Regions from separate parts of the Homo sapiens genome. Here region 2 is linked to region 1. Evidence: fine-mapped expression QTL. Tissue or cell type: whole blood. Region 1 holds a variant in brackets; the other region holds the start of a gene. All regions are shown on one strand. Distances are from middle to middle.

Region 1 (8,180 bases):
ATTTTGTGTATATATATTTAATAAATATATATTTTGTATATATATATTTAATAAATATATATTTTGTATATATATTTAATAAATATATATTTTGTATATATATTTATTAAATATATATTTTGTATATATTTAATAAATATATATTTTGTATATATATTTATTAAATATATATTATATATATTTAATAAATATATATTATATATATATTTAATAAATATATATTTAAATATATACTTAGTATATATCTTAAAGATACATATCTTAAATATATATATAGATATATATATATTTTTTGAGACAGGGTCTGCTCTGTCACCCAGGCTGGAGTGCAGTGGTGCGATCTCAGCTCACTGCAGCCTATGGCTGCTGGGTTTAAGCGATTTTCCTGCCTCAGCCTCCTGAGTACAGGGAGTAGCCACCATGCCTGGATAATTTTTGATTTTTAGCAGAGACAGGGTTTTACCATGTTGGTCAGGCTGTCTCAAACTCCTGACCTCAAGTGATCCACCTGCCTCGGCCTCCCAAAGTGTTGGGATTACAGGTATGAGCCACGCACCTAGCCTAAAACTTATTTTCTTACTGGTTTCCTTGAAGATTACAATTACCTTCTTAAGTATCTAAACAGGTAGTTTTATAATACCGGCAGAATTTCATTGCAATCCAAATACTGTGCTCCTGTACCACTCCATCTCTCCAGCTTTCTATTGTTGCTGTCATAGATCACATCCTTGCACGTTGTGTGACCACTGACGTCGATCTTAAGGACATGTATGTGTATGGAGCAAGGTTGACTTGTGATGGTTGATTTTATGTGTCAACTTGGTTACCCAGATACTTGGCCAAATATTATCCTAGATGTTTCTGTGAAGGTGTGTTTGTTGTTGTTGTTTTGTTGTTGGTTTTAGATGGGATTAACATTTAAATCAGTGGGCTTTGAGTCAAGCAGATTACCCCCTTAATGTTGGCAGGTCCCATCTAATCAGTTGAAAGCCTCAATAGAAAAAAGACTGACCTCCACCAAGAAAGAGGGTGTTCTGCCAGCAGGCAGCCTTCAGACCTGAGCTGTGACTCTTCTCTGCTGGCCTATCCTGTACCTTTTGAATTTGCCAGCCTCCACAGTTATGTGAACCAATTCCTTAAGATAAATCTTTATCTCTCTAGAGCAGGGGCCCCTGACCCCCAGGCCATGGACCAGTACTGGTCCGTGGCCTGTTAGGAACCAGGCCACACAGCAGGAGGTGGGCTGTAGATGAGTGAGCATTACTGCCCGAGCTCTGCATGCCGTCAAATCAGCGGCAGCATTAGACTTCATAGGAGCGTGAACCCTATTGTGAACTCCACATTTGAGAGATCTAGGTTGCGCACTCCTTATGAGAATCTAATGCCTGATGATCTGTCACTGTCTCCCATCACCCCCAGATAGGACCATCTAGTTGCAGGAAAATAAACTCAGGGCTTCCACTGATTCTACGTTATAGTGAGTTGTATAATTATTTCATTATATGTTACCATATAATAGTGATAGAAATAAAGTGCACAATAAATGTAACATGCTTGAATCATCCTGAAACCATCCCCATGCCCCCAACTCCAGTCCGTGGAAAAATTGTCTTTCAGGAAACCAGTCCCTGGTGGCAAAAATGTTGGAGACCCCTGCTCTAGAGAGCCCTGACTAATACAGAATTTTTAAAGATTTGAAATTCTTTTAAACCATACTTGATCTCCAAGTAATGGAAATAATAAGATTATATTTCCACCTAACATAATACAGCTATCCTGTATACAACTGAAAACGCACTAACCCTTTCTCCAGAAGAGGATGCAAAGTTCTTGAGTGGTGTTTACTCCTTTCCTTGATACCCTGGAACATAAATACTATAAAGTGAACAATACTTAAATACTATGATATAAATTCAAAATATCTTGTGTTACATAACAAGGGGATAAGAGAAGGAAGAAAACACAGATATTCGCTTAACATATATTTACACATAAACACACACACATAACACAATAAGGAAGAAATACTTATAATGATTACAGTCCTTATTTCCATAGCTGGTCATGTCATTGTAGCTGGTATTTATAAGAAGCTTCTTTCGCTGTGCATTCTGTATTCCCTGTGCCCTCACTAAGCACCTCAGCTGGTCATGGCTCTGTGCCTGGTAGAGTGAACTAACCTTTATTCCTGAAGGGTCTGAGCTATAAGTGGTCCTGCTTTAATAGGGTCGTGGTAGTTTTCCATTGACTTTACTCACAGGGCATGGTAATACTAAGAGATGCCCTAAGGAATCTCCTGTATTCTAGACATCCTCTTCCTTACGTCCATTGTGGAATAACAGTCCAATTTTCCCTTCAATTTCCCCTTTGTGTTCAGAATCAGTCAATCCAGCCAGCAGGGTTTGTGTAACTGGTTTTCGCCTGTTGATTCAGAGGCATGAGGAACCCAAAGTGGCCAAGTGGCAGTCTTCAAGTTACACAGAATCACTGTTGTGTCTCCTCATGGAATCATTCCTCCCTCTGAAACTCAGAGCTCTAGCAAAGCATAAAGCAGCAAAAATTTTGATAACAGGCCACTAAGGGTAATGTGGAGTGGGGCCATTCCTGCTTCCACCCCTAGATTCCTGGACACATGAATCCTAGCAATGGAAGAAGCAACCGCATGTATTGGAGGATAATTCAGAGCATAGACAGTCTCCTGGAGAACCTTGTTGCAGCCCTTCAAGGTACTGCCACCCAGCTGACATTGTAAATGAGTTTTCAAAAAGCCATATCCCACCATCTTACCAAGCCAGCAGTTTTGAGATGGTGGGGAACATGGTAAGACCAGTAATTCCATGAGCACAGGCCCATTATAGTGGGCGCTTCATTTGCCATCAAGTGAGTCCCTCAATCAGAAGCAATGCTGTGTGAATACCATGACTGTGGATAAGGCATTCTGTGAGTCCACAGAGGATAGTTTTGACAGAAGCATTGCATGCAGGGAAGGCAAGTCTATGTGCAAAATAAGCTTCTCTTCCAGTAAAAATGCTGCCCCCTCCATGATAGAAATGGTTCAGTGTAATAATCAACCTGCCACCAGGTAGCTGGCAGACTGACCCTCTGAATGGTGCTATATCAGAGACTCAGTGTTGGACTCTGCTGCCTATAGATTGGGCACTCAGTAGCAGCTGTAGCCAGGTTGGCCTTGGTGAGGGAAGTCTGTATTGTTAAGCCCATACATAACCTCCATCCCTGCCACCATGCACACTTTGTTCATGAGCCCATTGAGTGATGACAAGGATGGCTGGGAAAGAAGCTGACTGGTAGTCACAGAACAGGTCATCCTATCCACCTGATTATTAAAATCCTTCCCTGCTAAGATCACTTTTTGTGAAGATATTTGTGTCACATGGGGCACAAATATCTTCATGGTTTTTTTACCCATTGAGAAAGGTCTATCCACACACCTCTTCCCCAGACTTCCTTGTTATCAGTTTTCCTTCAGAGCCTCTGACCCTCCAGCCAAATCATTGACCACAGCTCATGAATCAGTATATAACTACATGTCTAGCCATTCTTCCCTCAAGCAAAATGAACAACCAGGTGTACTGCTCAGAGTTCTGCCCAGTGGCAGGATCTCTTTTTTTTGAGACGGAGTTTCGCTATTGTTGCCCGGGCTAGAGTGCAATGGGGCGACCTCGGCTCACTACAACCTCTGCCTCCCGGGTTCAAGTGATTCCCCTGCCTCAGCCTCCCAAGTAACTGGGATTACAGGCATGTGCCACCATGCTCGGTAATTTTGTATTTTTAGTAGAGACGAGGTTTCACCATGTTGGTCAGGCCAGTCTCGAACTCCTGACCTCAGGTGATCCACTCACCTCGGCCTCCCAAAGTGCTGGGATTACAGGTGTGAGCCACCACACCCGGCCTAGCGGATTTCTTTTCACCACTGTCCTTCAGGGACGTCCCAGACAGTGGATGTGATGCTGCAAACATCCACTTCTAAGGGTTACCTGTATGTGGTGCAGAACCATCTGTAAACCTTCTTCTGGCAACTGACCATAGGGAATTCCTCATGAGGCCATAAGTGCAGGCCAGGCAAAAGAAAGTAATATTGCAGGAGTGGGGATCATGGGCACTTGGGCCACTTCTTCATGTAACTTTCTTGTGCCTTCAGGGCCTATTTAAGCCCAATTTTGTATATATACCAATTACATTTGAAAATGGAAATGGAAACTTTAGGCTGTATGTGCCCAAACTTATGGCTTGGTAGGCAAAATAACACTCAGTTCACGATGAGCAGTCAGGTCGTAGAGTAATTTGGTGGCCTATGGTTAACCATTCAGTCTGCACTAAGGCCCAGAAACAAGCCAAGAGCTGTTTCTCAAAAGGAGAGTAGTTATCTGCAGAGGATGGCAAGTCTTTGCTCCAAAACCTAAGGGCCTGTGCTGTGGTTGACCTAGAGTGGGCTACTAAAGGTTCAAAACAGCATTGCTGTCTGCCACCAATACTTCAAGCACCGTTGGGTCTGCTGGGTCGTATGGCCCAAGTGACAGA[A/T]AAATGTCTACGGCAGCCTGGACCTGTTGCAGAGCCTTTTCTTGTTCTGAGCACCACTCAAAACTAGCACATTTTTAGGTGACTTGATAAATAGGCCAGAGAAACACACCCAAATGAGGAATATGTTGCCACCAAAATCAAAATAAGCACACTAGGCATTGTGTCATTTTCTTGGTTGTAGGGAGGTGGGGGTGGCAGATACAACAATTTATCTTTTATCTTAGAATATCTTAGAAGAGAAGGAATATCTTATGTGCCACATCATTCAACAACTAGGAATTTGTTTCCCAGTTGTTGTCCTTCTACTGAGGTAAAAGGCCCTTGAAATTTTGTCAGATTTATTTCCCACCCCCTGACATGCAAATGTCTTACCATTAAGTCTAGAATAGTTGCTACTTCTTGCTCGTGAGGTTCAATCAGTATAATGTCATCAGTATAATGGATCGTCTTGTGTGTTATCTTGTGGAAGGGAAAGGCCATCAATATCCCTGCAGGCCAGATGTGGTGGCTCGCGCCTGTAATCCCAGCAGTTTGAGAGGCCAAGGTGGCTGGGTCACTTGAGACCAGGAGTTCTAGACCAGCCTGGCCAACATGGTGAAACCTCATCTCTACTAAAAATACAAAAATTAGTTGGATGTGGTGGCACACATGGGTAATCCCAGCTACTTGGGAGGCTGAGGCATGAGAATCGCTTGAACCCAGGAGGTGCAGGTTGCAGTGAGCTGAGATCATGCCACTGCACTCCAGCCTGAGAGACAGAGCAAGACTCTGTTTAATTAAAAAAAAAAAAATACCTGCAAACTAAATTATGACATAGGGCTGCGAGTTGATGCATCCCGGAGACAGGATAGTGAGGGTATATTGCTGGCCTTGCCAACTGAAAGCAAACTGCTTCTGGGAGTCTTTATTGACAGGTATGACCAACAAAGCATTTGCCAGTTCAACACCTGCATACCAGGGTACCAGGGATGTGGCGATTTGCTCAAACAATGAAACCATATCTGGGACAGTTATAACTGGAATCACCACCTGGTTAAGCGTATGATAATCCACTGTCATTCACCAAGATCCATCTGTCTTTGGCACAGGCCAAATAGTCAAGTTCAATGGGCATGTGATGGGAATCACCACAGATGCATCCTGGATGGTGGTAATGATCTCTGCAATCCCTCCAGGAATGTTGTATTGCTTTTGTTTTTTTGTGCTTTACAGGCAGGGTATCACTCTGTCACCCAGGCTGGAGTGCAGTGGCACAATCATAGCACACTGCAGCTTGAACTCCTGGGCTCAGGCAATCCTCCTGCCTCAGCTTCTTGAGCAGCTAAGACTACAGGCATGTACTGTCATACCTGGATAATTTTGTATGTGTGTGTACAGATGGAGTCTCACTGTGTTGCCCAGGCTGGTCTTAAACCCCTGGCCTCAAGTAATCCTCCTGCCCTGACCTCCCAATGTGCTGGAATTACAGACATGAGCCACCATGCCCATCTGGTATTGCTTTTGATTTACTATTTTTTTTAAGTAAATGCAAATCTGGTGGCTTCCACCTGGTCTTTTCCACCATAATAGTCTTCACTTCACATGTCAGGGAATGAAGGTGGGGATTGTGCCAGCTGCTGAGTATGTCTATTCCAATTACACATACTAAAATGAGGAAATCAGACAGGATGGGTGTGGGGACCCACTGGCCCCTTTCTGAGATGGACTTGAGCTTAGTTTGAGTAATGACAACATAACTTCAATGGTATGCAAACACTGTGCTCCTGTACTTCTCCGTCTTTCCTCCTCCATCTTGTTGTTATAGATCACATCCTTGTACATTGTGTGCCCATTAACATCAATTTGTAATTATTGTTTTCTGCATTTGCTCTTTAAATCATATAAGTAAATAAGAGGATTTACAAACCAAATGTACCATAATACTGTGCTACAGACTGAATTGTGTCCCCAAAATCATATGTTGAAGCATTACCATCCAATGAGATGGTATTTGGAGATGGTGCCTTTGGGAAGTAATTGGGTTTAGATGAGGTCATGAGGGTGGGGCCCTCATGATGGGATTAGTGCCTTTTTAAGAAAAGACCCAGACAACTTGCTCTCTCTCGCTTGCTCGCTCTCTCTCTCCCCCCCTCTTCTGGTGTGTGCAAGGAAGAGGTTACGCAAATGCACAGCAAGATGGTGGCCATCTCTAGAACTATGATAAATAAATGTCTATTGTTTAAGCCACTTGGTCTATGGTATTTTATTATAGCAGCCTAAGTAGCTGCGTACCAGCATTTATATTTACCTAAATAGTTACCTTTTCCAGGGTTCTTTTTTTTTTTTTTTTTTTTTTTTTTTTTTTTTTTTGAGACGGAGTCTCGCTGTCGCCCAGGCTGGAGTGCAGTGGCGTAATCTCGGCTCACTGCAGGCTCCGGCCCCTGGGTTTCACGCCATTCTCCTGCCTCAGCCTCCCGAGTAGCTGGGACTACAGGCGCCCGCCACCTCGCCCGGCTAATTTTTTTTTGTATTTTTAGTAGAGACGGGGTTTCACCGTGTTAGCCAGGATGGTCTCGATCTCCTGACCTCGTGATCCGCCCGCCTCGGCCTCCCAGAGTGCTGGGATTACAGGCGTGAGCCACCGCACCCGGCCTCCAGTGTTCTTTATCTCTTCGTATGCCTTTGAGCTATTATCTAATGTCATTACATTACCTCCTAAAGGATTCCTTTTAGCATTTCACAGGGCAGATCTACTAGTAATGTGCTCCATTACCTTTCATTTATCTAAGAAGGTCTTAATTTCTTCTTCATTCTTGAATGATAATGTTCCTGGATATCAAATTCTTGGTTGCAGGATTTTGTATGCTTGTGTTTTTGTTTCTTGGCACTTTAAATATGTTACCCACTCCCTTCTGGGCTCTATGGTTCCTGGTGAGAAATTAGCTAATAACCTTATTGAGGTTCCCTTGTACATACTGAGTGGGCCACTTGCTACTTTCAGGATTTTCTGTTGGTGTTGGGCTTTTGTCCATTTGACTATAATGTGTCTCAGTGTAGTTCTCTTTTAACTTATCCTGCTTGGAGATCATTGAGTTTCTTGGATGTGCAGACAAATGTTTTTTAAAAGTCTTGCACCTCCTTGTTAAATATCATTCCTAAATGTTTTATTCATTTTTATGTCATTGTCAATGAAATTGTTTTCTTAATTTCCTTTTTGGATTGTTCTTTGCTACTGCAAAACTTTTACGCTGAAAACTATCAAACATTGCTGTAAGAAATTTTAAAAAAGCAAAATAAACAGGAAGATATTCCATGTTCATAGATCAAAATGGTGTTAAATTACCCAAAGCAATATACAGATTCAATGAAATCCCTACCAAAATCTCAGTGGTGTTATTTTAAAAATGGAAGAACTTATATTCAAAGTCGTATGGAATTAAAAAGACTTATTGACCAAAAACAATCTGGTAAAAGAAAAGCAGAGTTGGCGGGACTCACACTTTCCAATTTTGAAACATATCCTCATTCCAGGGCAGCTTTAGTCCCCTTTTCTTTGGATCATTCTTTGACTCTATAGAGATTCCTCCCGTTTTCTTCCCATGGCTGATGGTGTGAGCTTTAATTTTGAAGGCTTTTCCCATTGTTGTATGACTTCTGCTCCT
Region 2 (8,180 bases), 37 kb after region 1:
CCTTTATGGAGATGCAAGAGTTTTTCCTCCCAGCCTCTCTAGGATGGGGAGGTTCCTGGATGCACCTGACCAGCCCAGGGGCCTCCCTTTCTCTATTCGGGGTCTGTCCTGTTGCCCATGTGTCATGCTCAGCTACAGGTCCAGCTTTCAGATGCGGGTGAGGGGAACCACAGGCCTATGATGATACAGTCAGTGGCCAATGGGCCTCTACTTCCCCTACGGGGGGCTGTCCTCCCAGCACCCTGCCCCCAGCGTCAGAGAGTGAGATCCACCTCCACCCTCTTCTGCCCTTCCCATTCCTAGGGAGGATGATCCTCAGGCTGAAGATCCCAGGCAGCTGGCACTCCTAGGTGATGTTCACTAAACTGGCTACATGGGCGATGGGATTGCCAGAAAGCAAAAGATCAGAAATTTGAGCCTGAATTTCTGGGCAAATGCTTGCCTCAGTTGCCTTCGATGTTGAGCAGAGAGGAAGTGGCTTGTCCACCCCCAGAGAGGGATGGCTTGAATGAACAAACAGAAGGCACTTCTGTAGTCAGATGTCATGTTCGTGTTTAAAAATCTGTCGCCAGGAGGCCCTGGCCTCGGCATCCACCCTCCTGGGATTAGGGAGCAGGGGCAGGGCCAGCGTGATTAGGACGCTTGGTTTCGCCAGCGTCATCTGCCCGCCCCACTCACATTCCTGTGTGTATGAAAGTCGTCTGGGGGGGCTTTAGCAGCCCGGAGTCATCCCTCCTAGGCTAAGGAAGGCTGAGCTCTGAGTGCTGGAGGCTGCCCAGGCACCCTGGCTGCTGAGCCATCCAGCCCAGAGCCAGGCCACCAGCAACAACAGGGAGGCTCCATTCCTGCTGGGCTGTAACTGGATGCCAGCATGCAGGGATGCAGACCGAAATATCCAAGTAACGATAGCAACTGGGATCCGTGCGAGTGGATGCATCTCAGCAACCTAAGCAAAAAGTGCAGCAAGGACTTCTCAATGAGACAACCTCCTCCGCCTTTTTGGAATGTTACAGGATCTGGACCCTTCAACGAGGTCTCCATGCAGTGCCCTCATGGTCTCCAGGGCAACTGTACCACCCCTTCTCTCTCCTAACCCTCCCTCAGCAGACAACCGTTTTTTGTTTTTGTATTTTTTTGAGACGGAGTTTTGCGCTTGACACCCAGGCTGGAGTGCAGTGGCATGATCTCGGCTCACTGCAGCCTCTGCCTCCTGGGTTCAAGTGATTCTCCTGCCTCAGCCTCCCAGGTAGCTGGGATTACAGGTGTGTGCCACTATGCCGGCTAATTTTGTATTTTTAGTAGATACGGGGTTTCGCCATGTTGGTCAGGCTGGTCTTAAACTCCTGACCTCAAGTGATCTGCCCGCCTTGGCCTCCCAAAGTGCTGGGATTACAGGCGTGAGCCACCACACCTGGCCCAGAGAACTGTTAAGAACTGTTATTCTAACCACAGGCTTCCTCCTCCCAATTCTCTCTCCTGAACTGAGGACCGGGAACCCCACTTTGACAGTTCCTGATCTCAAGTTGAGGAATGTGCTGGCGCCAGGAGGCAGCATCTGGGCTGTGGTTTCTGTTTTGTCGAGTGAATACCAAAACAGATATAATCCCAAATACAAAATATGTGCAGCTGGAGGATAAAGATTAAAACCCAAGAGCCAAAAGAACTTCTTTCTCAAGTTCCGATTCTCCCAGCATGTAGGTCTGTAGACAGAAGCGGGGGAATGAGGAGGCCTAATGGAGGGATGCCAGTTCTCAAATTCAGGAGCACCTTGACAGTGAGAATAATGCCAGAACACCAGCAGAGCAGTGCTGGGCCAAGTTCAGCTACTTTGTGATGAAAACACTGCTGCCCACCTGTGCTATGTCACCTCTAGAGTTAAGCAGTGGTCAGCCAATCAACAAGTGGAAATTGACAAATACTGTGCCATGAGTTTAGACATCAGACCTTCTGGGTTGCGCAACCCCTTCCATCCATTCCCCAGCCCCTTCAGCAGTCCCCTTGTCCTTCAGCTGCCTCTCTGTTTGTATCATCTCACCCTTTCTACCCTGTCCCAACTGCCTGACTGGCAAACTTCACTGTCCTATCTAGGAAGAGGCAAGTCACTTATATTTTCTGGGCATCAGTCTCCCCCTCTGGGAAATGGGTATGAAGACATTGGAAGAGTCTCCTGAACCGTGGTTAATTTGTGCCAAGAGAGGCTGGGCTGAAAGGAGGTATTTGTCTTCTTATGTAATGTGGTATTATATAATGCTAGATTGCATATCTATATGTGTAATTATATCTGTCTTTAAGATACAGACTGGCCCAATTCAAGTGTTAGAACTCTTAGTCTAATCAGGCCTGTCTTAAAGGAGGATCCTGTCCTGGAGAGAGTGTGCCAAGAGTAATATAATTTTTGCCCTAGGATGTTGCTGATGTTGTATCATTGCTGATGTATGGTGATACAGCCCACTCATTGCTGATATATGGTGATACAGCCCATTCAGTGAGCCTCTCAGCTTCCCCTCTCCCTCCGGCTCTCTCTTCTTCCCTGACTCCAGACTCTCCCTCACAATTGCCTCATCCCCACTCAATCAACCTCCATAAACTATGACCTCCTCACCACCCAGCCCTGGGCATCACAACCCCCAACTCACTCCTCTTCCATGACAATCGCAAAGTCACTGGCATGTGTTCCTTCCATCCCTGTCCCATGATCCCTGTGCCCCTCCAAAAACAGCCTCCTGCCCACCGCTCTCCCAGCTCTTTGTACTTGGTGCAAGCCAAAACCCAAGGTGTGCTGAAATTAGCTACAAACCTCGTGCTCTCCCAGTCCCACCCCCACACCCCTACACACACTCTTTGCAGAGCTCAGAAAGGGCCCCTTTCCCTCCCACAGCTGATAGGAGGCTTGTTCATCTGTGGCTGCCCTAGTCTGGTTGTCAAGGAAACAACAGAATCTCCCTGGGAGCCTGGCTTGTCTCCTAGCAACCAGTATCCCACATCATCTTACAAAATGGGAATGGGAGGAAAATCCTGAAAATGAAGGTAAAATCAAGGGAGATGGATTGAATGGAGAATTGGAAGGAGAAGAACAAAGAGAGAGTGGACTCCTAATTCGGGGAGGCTCCCACGGGGGTCGCTGGCATTGCAAGAAGCCCCGTGCAGATCCAACAGAAAGCAAGGCCCAAAGGGACCCTGAATGGTCAGATTAAAGAAATGCAAGCCTAAACACAGATAAGCCCCCTCAAACCTAAAATGTGGACACATCACCAAACACCGCCAAAGATCTCCCCAGTAGTTTCACAGAACTCAGTTACATAGACTGCAATGGAGTTGAGTTCAAAGAACCAGCTCCGGAACCGCCAGCAAAACACCCCAATTCCACTGTTGTTTTGTGTTTGTTTTCTTAACAGAATCACTCCCACCACTCTGGACCGTTTTTCCTTTTTTCTGACACGCTACTCTGCACACACACAAAATAGAAATTTAAAAATTTTTAAACATCGAGAAGGGGGAGGGGCACGACAGGCCGAAGCAATCAAGTCATCTTCCTTTCCCTAGAAACACCGGAAAGGATTAGGCTCCAGCCCCGCTGTACCCAGCAGCCGAAGCCAGAGCCCAGGGACTAGCGGGGCCCGGGGAACGTAGCGAGGGGCGCGGCAGGGCAGGGAGGGCGGAGCGGCGCGTCTGCAAGGGCTGCTGGCCACCCCGCCATAACCGCAAGCAGCCATCTACTTACACCACTACATGTGACGGGGTGGCTTCTAGCGTGAGGAACACATCTCTTCCTGCTGAGCACGCTCATTTTAGTGAAATGTCAGGGGTCCCTCCGCGCCTGCAAGTTGGGACGACGCCGGCGCCGCCGCGCTGCTGCTGGGCTCCAGCCTCCCGGCCAGCTCGCGGCCACTCAGAAACTCCGGCAGGGCAGCCCAGGCCGGACGTGGGCCCAGGAGCGGACGCGCGCGCTGCACTGCAGCCGCTGCCCCTTCCGGATCAGCATCGCCCCGCGCGCCAGGCGCCCAATGTCACGGCGGCGCGCGGAGCCGGGCTGCGGAGGCAGCGGGCGGCGCGCAGGGGCGCCGGGAGAGGGGCGAGGCCGCCGCCGCTACGCGCCCGGGCCCGCGGCGAAGGCGCTGCCGCGAAGACGCCTGGCGCTGCAGTCCCAGGTACCGCTCGCGACCTCCTTTTTTCATTCACAAAAAAAGGATAGGGAAAAAAAAAAGAAAAGAAAAAAACGGGAGGGTAAAAAAAGGAGGAGAAAAAAATCGCACCCAAGACGACAGCCGTGACGGGCCCCGCCCACTGCCGCGCGCAGTTGGTGGAAAGCGTTCGGGGGGCGGGGAGGGGGCGGGCGGGGGAAGAAGGGGATTGGACGCCCCGCAGATCCCGCCTCGCAGCACCGCTCCCGCCCACCGCCCGCGCTCTTCCGCCCCTCCCGCAGCGACGCCGCGGGGAGGGTCTCGGCTCGCGGGTCTGGGTGGCGCCGGTCCCTCCACCTGGCGAGGCGCAAAGGCTCTCCGGACGCCCACGGGGTTTTCCCCTTTCCTTCGGGAGGCGGGGGAGAACCTCTGAGAGGCATCCTAGTGCACCCTGGAAGGGATGCTAGTTGGAGGAGAACGTGTGGTTGTAAGCCCAGGCCCCCACCACTTGCCCACGGGGAGGCGACGGCAGGGGCAGTCGGGGGGGCGGGGGGCGGGGGCCGGGTAGGGACGAATAACCGGCGTTTCCATACAAGCCCTCTGCTGCTTTGGGAATTTTCGTGGCACTTGAGAGCCTTCCTCCCTCCATGGCCCTTAATGAGTTGTGGGGTGGGTACCTGTACCACGTTACCTGTCTCCCACCTAGGCCTTCTTCAGCGGGTCCCCACCTCCATCCCATCCCCCTCCTGTTGCCTCCTGGAGTTCAGTAATAGCTGCTAATCTCTGAAAGAAACACCATGAAGTGAGTAGCCTCGAAAATCGTCCCTAAGCCTTCTTTGGGTTTTCTGCCTCAATTTACCCCTCTGTAAAATAGAGAGATTCTAAGGTATAACATCTATAACCTGAGGGGTCCCTAGAAGACACTTTCCATATTCAAGGCTGGTTTTATCAGGATAATCTTTTTTTTTTTTTTTTTTTTTTGAGTCTCCCTCTGTTGCCCAGGCTGGAGTGCAGTGGTGCAATCTTGGTTCACTGCAACCTCCGCCTCTTGGGTTCAAGCAGTTCTGCCTCAGCCTCCCGAGTAGCTGGGACTACAAGTGCACGCCACTATTCCCAGCTAATTTATGTATTTTTGGTAGAGACGGGGTTTCACCACCTTGGCCAGGCTGGTCTCGAACTCCTGACCTCGGGTGATCTGCCTGCCTTGGCCTCCCAAAGTACTAGGATTACAGGCGTGAGCCACCATGCCCAGCCAGGATGATCTTGACTGCTAGTGTTAAGTAGTCAGCTCAGTCTGGTTTGATTCATCTCCTCAGTTACCTCTGGACAATTTTTAAAGCCCAGACCAGCCTGCCACCCACCTGAACCGCCTCCACCACTCCTCCATCTTGTGCTCTGAAAATGCAAATCCACTCTAATATTAGTTTATGCAAAATATGATTAGGAAGAGAAATTTACTGCCAAAAGAAAGCCGGGTTAAAAATGAATTTTGTGTTGTCTGAAGCATGCTTCTCATCTGTGAATGCATATACTTGGAAGCTGTCCCTCAAGGTGTTTGTGATCAACGTGCCTACCTACCTGGTCAATGTACAGGAAGTGCTCGGTTGTTGGAGGATGCTTCTCCCACCCCTTTCTCAATCTACTCAGAGCTAGCCAAGAGGTTAACAATGACTGACAGTGCTACTTACTTCTCATTTCTGGTTAGAACTCACCCTCCATAAACCAGAAAGTACTTATTTGAATACATATTTAGGAGAGAAAGTAAACCATGCTCACACATGTTCTTCCTCCACATGTTTGGCATTGAAGAGACTTACCCCATCTTCTGTGTGCCAAAGAGCCCCTGCGCCAGAGAAAATCATAACTTGAGATCTCTGCATGATTCCCACGGCAGGCCAGGGTCTCTCCCACGGACACCCTGTTCCCTCCACCCACCTCCAGAGACCAGCTGAATGCCAGATGCCAGTTGACATCACCTTTCACCTGTCCTGGCAGGACCATAGCCCCTGTGGAGCAAGGAGTAGGAAGACAGAACTCCCGTCCACCCAAAGTCATGAAGCAGGAGAGGGTGGCTGCTCGGACTGTAAGCTAGAGCCAATGCCCTTTCTGCCTTGGGAGAAAAAGCCAGCTCAGCCTGGAAGCCTCAACCAGGCTGGACTGTGTGAATTCCAAGGTGTAGTGTTGATTGGGGTGGAAGGGTCTTGGACAAAAATGTGGGTGTCAAATGAAATTGCACCCCCACAGCCCCCGCCCCGCCCCGCTCACACTCAGTGAACTGTTTCAGGCAGAGGCAGGAGCTTTGCTGGGGAGGTTCCCTCAATTCCCAGCCCTGCTTTTTGCATGCAGTTCCCTCTTTCAGCCTTTCTCCAAATCAAAGTCCTTCCCCATCATTTCACCTCTAGGGCTGTCATGGTTGGCGCCCCAATCAGTTCCCTCTTATCATCAGAGTTCCTCCAAGTCCCCACCTTCTCCTACCAGTGCCCCCCAGCCCATCCTCTGCAGCCCCTTGTCACTGTCAAGCCGCCCCATCCATGTCCCACCCTAGGCCGTCTGGGGACCTCTGCAGACCTCCTCCTCAGGCCAGCCTGCGAGGAGCTCCAGCGGTTCACTACTCACAGCTCAGATGGCAGCATTCCCCACGCTGTATGAGGGGCAGACCACTAGCAAGCTGCAGCCGCCGGCCTGTGCCCCAGTTGTGGCTAAAACCAGGCCTCTTCCCAGCCAGCCCTGGCCAGGACTGCCCCGGGACCCCCACTCTGCTATTCAAGACAGCCTCCAGCCCCTGGTACCCCAGCTGAGGATCTGGCACGTCCCTTCATCTTTGCCCATCTCTCCAATGCCAGATCCTGGAAAACAGGGCCACTCCCAGAGGCCAGGCTTCCCCACCAGCAAGCAAGGTGCTGTTGGGCCTTCTCATGCCCATCCCTGTCCCCAGCTGTTAGCACCCGGCAGGCAGCAGCGTCTCACAGCACAGGAAGCCTCCCACTCCCTTCACTGCGCCCTCCCACCCCAGGCCCTGAGGAGTCCATTTTCCTCTATTCAGGTGACTTCTCAAGGCAGGCCTGGGTGGGAGACAAAAGCTCCTGGCCTCTTTCTTTCTCTGCCTCCTCCATTCCGTTACATACACAGACACACAGACACACACACACACACACACACACACACACACACACACACACACACACACACACACACACACACACACACACCAGCCCTCTCTGCCCATTTGCTGCAGCTTGGAAACACTGGTGTGATTCCGAGGAGCAGTTCAGCCTGAGCACTGACTCCCCCCATTGCTGGCTTCCCAAATCTGCTTCTGCTGGTGGGTCTGGCAATGTCCTGCCATGTGCCTGGCTGCGTGGCTGTAGCCCAAGGGCTTCCTGGCAGCATGGAGGCAGGTTCCATTCTACAATCTCCTGCCCCTGCCCAACCCCAGCATCTCTTCCCTCACCAAATCCCTCTTGTGACCCACCTCCCCAGTGACATAAACCCCTGGAACCTGTCCCCAGAAGGCACCCCCTCTATGCCTCCCCACACCACCCTCCTCCAGGCCATCACGCGGCTGCTGTTTTCCTGAAGCCGGGCAGATGCCTGCCTGTGAACAGGAGGCTTTTCTGGGGAAAGAGAAACCTCCATCCTGGCTCTTAGCAAAGCGCAGCAGGCTCCCCGGCCAGTCCCACCAGCGTTGCTCTCCCTGTGGCTGTGAAGGCCCCTTCCCAGTGCCAGCCCAACGCAGACCGCCTGGCTCAGTCCATCCTCCAACCTGCACCTTCCCTTTGCTTCACAGGCAGCTTTACCCTTCAACACTTTGCAGGCTACTAACCGCGCTTTCATGGCACCCCTCTCCTGGAACACTACAGCCTCTGCGGAGCCCACCCCATGGGCCTTGTGACATGAGCTCCGCCCCCCATCCCCTGCCATGTGCAGGCTGGGGCACGTGGTGTTCCTACCCTGCAGCTGGGGCAAAGTTCAGAACCAGCCATGAGCAAAAGCAGAGGCATTTCAAGATGCAGAGCCCCAGCAGGGTGAAGGAGCTGAATCTGGAAAGCCTAGAGTCTC

The links. PIP is the estimated chance that this variant, and not a neighbour inherited with it, causes the effect.
Region 2: it holds the start of RHOBTB2-AS1, and the variant in region 1 is fine-mapped to the expression of RHOBTB2-AS1 in whole blood (TOPMed, PIP above 0.99).

The regions. Positions count from the first base shown.
Region 1 is chr8:23,032,294-23,040,473 of GRCh38, reverse strand. All of the region lies in intron 2 of TNFRSF10B (TNF receptor superfamily member 10b), which reads left to right. Among named protein-coding and RNA genes, the nearest start is that of TNFRSF10B, 33 kb to the left of the region's middle. The variant A/T (reference allele first, on the strand shown) is at 4,540.
Region 2 is chr8:22,995,647-23,003,826 of GRCh38, reverse strand. RHOBTB2-AS1 (RHOBTB2 antisense RNA 1) reads left to right here and starts at 4,022. Exons shown (of 2, transcript XR_007060857.1): 1 at 4,022-4,148. It overlaps RHOBTB2 (Rho related BTB domain containing 2), which reads right to left and starts at 4,279. Exons shown (of 10, transcript NM_015178.3): 1 at 3,722-4,279. RefSeq lists an enhancer at 1-72 and silencers at 3,570-3,619, 3,950-4,119, 4,340-4,599.